Regions from separate parts of the Homo sapiens genome. Here region 2 is linked to region 1. The links come from fine-mapping of genetic effects on gene expression. A gene starts in region 1. The other region holds a variant in brackets. All regions are shown on one strand. Distances are from middle to middle. Region 1 holds the start of ACOX3 (acyl-CoA oxidase 3, pristanoyl). Region 2 has its middle 29 kb from the start of LINC02517.

The links. PIP is the estimated chance that this variant, and not a neighbour inherited with it, causes the effect.
Region 2: its variant is fine-mapped to the expression of ACOX3 in tibial nerve (GTEx, PIP 0.98).

Annotation. Positions count from the first base shown.
Region 1 is chr4:8,439,586-8,442,085 of GRCh38, forward strand. It overlaps ACOX3 (acyl-CoA oxidase 3, pristanoyl), which reads right to left and starts at 1,138. Exons shown (of 18, transcript NM_003501.3): 1 at 1,063-1,138. TRMT44 (tRNA methyltransferase 44 homolog) reads left to right here and starts at 1,192. Exons shown (of 11, transcript NM_152544.3): 1 at 1,192-1,856. The coding sequence starts at 1,238. RefSeq lists enhancers at 1,026-1,265, 1,084-1,817 and silencers at 1,286-1,495, 1,546-1,605.
Region 2 is chr4:8,347,536-8,350,551 of GRCh38, forward strand. No RefSeq gene overlaps it. Among named protein-coding and RNA genes, the nearest start is that of LINC02517, 29 kb to the left of the region's middle. The variant C/A (reference allele first, on the strand shown) is at 1,524.

The DNA.
Region 1 (2,500 bases):
GAAAAAAGCTTTTAAGACCCAGTAAAAAAACTAACCTGCTTAGGACATGACAAAGTTGGCACATGTGCCTGTACTGGTTTAACACAGGTTTGATCCTAGGTCTTTATTTAAAAGATAGTTTCCAGCTATAAGAGAATTTAAAACCCTCACTGCAAGTGTATTACATAAAACACTATCACTCTGTCTCCCAAAGAGACTCAAAGTAAAAATAAAAGCGAGAACTCCCACTAATTTGTGAAAATTCTCAAAGGAAGGGATAAGGAGACCACTACTACTCCTGCTGCCCTCCTCCCTGCCACCTTGCCTAGTTCATAAGACAGGAGGAAAAGAGAGAAAGCAAAAAGTTAGAAAGAAACAAAAGTCAGATAAATAGCCAGACAACCTTGGCACCACCACGTGGCCCTAGGAGTTAAAAAAAATAATAATAATAACATCAACCCCCGACCTAAACTACTTGTGTTATCTGTAAATTCCAGACATTGTATGAAAAAAGCATTGCAAAACTTTCTGTTCTGTTAGCTGATTCATGTAGCCCCCAGTCACGTTTCCCATGCTTGCTCAATTTATCACGACCCTTTCACGTGGACCCTTAAAGTCGTAAGCCTTTAAACAGGCCAAGAATTTCTTTTTTGGGGAGCTCAGCTCTTAAGACGCAAGTCTGCCGATGCTCCCGGCCGAATAAACCTCTTTCTTCTTTAATCCGGTGTCTGAGGAGTTTTGTCTGTGGCTTGTCCTGCTACAGTAGGTGACAGATGACTTTCATCCCTCATGGGACAACGTTACATCATTCTTATGAAACAGCCATGGCTGCACTCAGACTTAGGAAGGCACTGGCTGTAATGCCAGCACTAAAAGCAAACCAGAACCCAAGTGGAGAAAAGTTAGCTTTCATAAGAGGACTCATCTTTTACGTTCACAAACTTAGGCTCCCTGACTTTTATCGGTAATCAGTACTGAGGACAATGCGTTCCACACCCGCTGGCTGGCTGATGTTTGATTCTGTAACTATACCACGCCCAGAATTCTCTCAAAAGGGAATAAAACACAGGTCAAATTCCTCACCCACACACTCCACAGTTCAACCCCTGCCAGGGAAACCAAAAGCAGGAAAGGATCTCCAGCGGCGCCATTCTCATTTCCGGTCCCAGCACCCCGCCTCCATGACGTCAACGCGCCGCGCCACCGGGCTGCGTCATCTCGGCGCGCCGCTGCCAGGGCTGTACACCTGCTGGCTGCCATGGCTGAGGTGGGCCGTACCGGGATCAGCTACCCAGGCGCGCTTCTCCCACAGGGCTTCTGGGCTGCGGTCGAAGTGTGGCTGGAGAGGCCGCAGGTGGCAAACAAACGGCTTTGCGGCGCCCGCCTGGAGGCCCGCTGGAGCGCCGCCCTGCCCTGCGCGGAGGCCCGCGGCCCCGGGACTAGCGCAGGCTCGGAGCAGAAGGAGCGGGGTCCGGGACCCGGCCAGGGTTCCCCCGGAGGGGGCCCGGGTCCCAGGTCGCTATCAGGACCCGAGCAGGGCACGGCATGTTGCGAACTTGAGGAGGCCCAGGGCCAGTGCCAGCAAGAGGAGGCACAGAGGGAAGCCGCCTCAGTGCCCCTGAGGGACTCCGGGCACCCCGGCCATGCTGAAGGAAGGGAGGGCGACTTCCCCGCCGCAGATCTGGATTCGCTTTGGGAGGATTTCTCCCAAAGTCTCGCCCGTGGCAATTCGGAGTTGCTGGCCTTCCTCACCAGCTCCGGGGCGGGATCGCAGCCAGAGGCGCAGCGTGAGCTCGACGTGGTTCTCAGAACCGTCATCCCGAAAACTAGCCCACATTGCCCCCTTACAACTCCCAGGAGGGAAATAGTCGTGCAAGGTAAGAGTGTTTTGATAGTGGACGGATATGATTAGATAAAAAAGCATTCATAGAACCTCGGGTCAATGAAAAAGTCCTAAGGGTACTAGTTCCTCTGCGATGTCCTAGGGAGGTTGTTAGGTGTTTCATAGTTTTTTGAGTGGGCGCATAGAAATGTGTGTCCTTAGTACAGAAGATGGGATAATTGATTGGGGTGGTGTCTGGAAGGCTTCAAAGAGACAGTGAAGGACTAGCTGGATATTGCGTAATACCTAGGAGTTTAGCAGGTAAAGCTGTAGGTGTAAAAGTGTTGGGGACCAGCCTCAACACCACCCGTAGGGTACTCAAAGTCCGGTGGCGACGAAGGAATGAGACGAGACAGGTTAAGAGTGCATAAAGATTGGGGGCCAGGGGGCCAATTGCAAAATGGAGGCTGCCAAAGCCTGGGAGCTCTGGTCTCCACACTATTGAGTACAATCACTTAGATCTAAGAAGCGGACGTTCGGGGCGAAAGGGTGAAAGGGAGACAGTGCATCATACATGTCATCTATAGCAGTGGCGGTTTAAATGAATCTCCTTTGTGCTCAAACAGCGTTATCTTTAACTTGTCGGAGAATAACCAGTGGGAGCGTGCTTAACTAGGAGCCTGCATGTCTGACCACATT
Region 2 (3,016 bases), 92 kb before region 1:
TCCTTGACATGCTCCTTAGATTGAGTCTTTAAAACCCTGCCTGTCCCAAGTACTCAGAATCAGAAAGAATCACCCAACTGTGTTCTGTGGCACCAGGTATCAATTCCCTGTGTACCTCCATGGACTCAGCGCCATCTCAGAAGTGAGGGCGGAGGGAAGGAACCTTCTAGAAGGAGGAGTTTGCTGCAGAACATCCAGAGCCCACAGCACTGAGTCGTCTCCATGCCCCTTGCCTGTGGTTCTCTGTAGCACATGGCAGGGGGGTGGGTGGTGCAGCACCTCCTTCTGATGCGTTGAGTGTCAGCACTGCAAGGTCCCCTACCCCATGCCCAGTGCCCAGTGCCCAGTCCCGTGGGAGCTCCTCATTTGGGGCAGAGACCAGGGCAGAGGCAGCGAGGGCTCCTCTCCTCCCTCACTCAGGGGCTACAGGCTGGTCACTTGAGCTCTCTGGAAATCAGTCTCCTCATCTGGAAAACGGGGCTCATCCTGACCTTGTGATGGGCATGAGGTGATGGTATCAGATAATGTGCGCGAACGACCCTGTAAATCATAAATTGGTTGCAGTTTCTCTCCAGCGACACCCTAGTACACTTTGGAGCCTGGTGAACTTGAGTTTGCATGCCAGCTCCTGACCTCCTATGGCCCACGTCCTCACTGGAGGATGGGCTCTGGAGGCTGGAGGGCTGGTGGAAGAGGAAGTGAGATGGCAGTTCGCTGGCTTCTGCATCAGGCCCCAACTGTACCCTGGGCCTCCCAGGCTTGCACGTGCCTCCTCACAGCTTCCCTTGAACATCCTGTATCATCCAGCAGCCCTAAACCGTGTGATTTTTTCCTCTGGGAGGTGACAGCCTGGACCAGAAGTTGAAACCTGGCCCCAGGGTATGGTGTGCCCCACTGTCAGAGGGACCTCAGATGAGCCACTAAGCCTCTCTCTGCCTCAGTTTCCTTATCTAAAATGGGTGGAATCAGCTGGGCGCCGTGGCTCATGCCTGTAATCCCAGCACTTTGGGAGGGCGAGGCGGGTGGATCATTTGAGGTCAGGAGTTCAAGACCAGCCTGGCCAACATGGTGAAACCCCATCTCTACTAAAAAAATACAAAAATTGGCTGGGTATGGTGGCGGGTGCCTATAATCCCAGCTACTCGGGAGGCTGAGGCAGGAGAAATCACTTGAGCCTGGGAGGCAGAGGTTGTGGTGAGCTGAGCTCGTGCCACTGTACTCCAGCCTGGGTGACAGAGCGAGACCCTGTCTGTAAAATAAAATAAATAAAATAAAATAAAATAAAATAAAATAAAATAAAATAAAATAGGTGGAATCATCTGGTCCCTGGCTGGGCTCACAAAAATCCCACAGGGAATGAATGATTATCAGTCTACTGGGGCTGCCATAGTGGGGTTCCACAGACTGGGGGCTGGAACAACAGACATTTATTTTCTCACAGCTCAGGGGGCTGAGAGTCTGAGACCAAGGTGTCGACAGGATTGGTTTCTCCTGAGGCCTCTCTCCTCGGCCTGCAGATGCCA[C/A]CTTCCCTCCGTGTCCTCACCTGGTCATCCCTCTGTGACTGTCTGTGTCCTCATCTCTTATAAGGATACCAGTCAGACTGGATTAGAGCCCACTCTGATGACCTCACTTTACCTTAATCACTTTTTTTTTTTTGACACAGAGTTTTGCTTTTGTCACCCAGGCTGGAGTGCAATGGCGCGATCTCAGCTCACAGCAACCTCTGCCTCCTGGGTTCAAGTGATTTGTCTGCCTCAGCCTCCCGAGTAGCTGGGATTACAAGCATGTGCCACCGTGCCAGGCTAATTTTGTATTTTTAGTAGAGATGGGGTTTATCCATGTTGGTCAGGCTGGTCACAAACTCCCTACCTCAGGTGATCCACCCACCTTGGCCTCCCAAAGTGCTGGGATGACAGGCGTGAGCCACCGCGCCCGGCCTAATCACCTCTTAAAAAGCCCTGTCTTGGCCAGGCGTGGTGGCTCACGCCTATAATCCCAGCACTTTGGGAGGTAGAGGTGGGCGGATCACGAGGTCAGGAGATAGAGACCATCCTGGCTAACATGGTGAAACCCTGTCCCTACTAAAAATACAAAAAAAATAGCGAGGCGTGGTGGCACACACCTATAGTTCCAGCTACTCGGGAGGCTGAGGTAGGAGAATCCCTTGAACCTAGGAGGCAGAGGTTGCAGTGAGCCAAGATCGCACCACTGCACTCCTGGAGGTTAGGGCTTCAACATACAAATTGTAGGGGGATGCAACTGAACCTGTAACACCTTGTGTGGTCATCACTCCAGGGAAGGATGTAAAGAGCTAGGACTCCCACAGCATTGTGTTTGCAAAGGAAGACCCGGGACCTTCAAGGTCTTTGTTGCTGACCTCCTCTCCCTCAGGAAAGGCAGAGGGTCATCTCCTCCCTGGAGTGGCTTCTCCCATGCTGACCTCACTTCTGGGAGGGGCCAGGAGGAACCTGCCTGCGTTTCTGAAGCCCAGCTCTAGCACATTTCACCCAGAGGCCAGGATCCCATGCAGAATGCCAGAGGCTGAGGGCAGCGGGCCGACCTCCCTTGGCAGTTTCAGAGTCTTTCTTCAGTGCTCTGTTATTTTATACAGGATTCCTATATGCGAAAAGAAATGCATACCTTACAAAATTCCTCAGTTACTGTAATTGGCAAGTAAGGATCTCTGGAAAGAGCATTTGCTCATTTAATAGGACTGGAAGGGAGCCGCAGCTTTTTAAATTTTTTTTCCTGGTGATGGTTTTTAAAGAATTTAAAATGCAATGATATTGCAAGGAAGAGTGGACTTTTCCCTGGTTGGCAGACTCCATCTAGCCATGGCATACTGCAGCAAGATTTCTGCGGCTGCCCACACGTCCTGCCTGGTGTAGAGGTGGTTCCGTCCAAGCTCCTCGGCTCACCACTGACCTCAGCTGAGCCCCTCACGCGCGGGTCCTACGAGAGGCACAGCAAGGAGACACCCGTCCCTGGTCAGGGGAACAGAGGGGAGCCGGCCCCT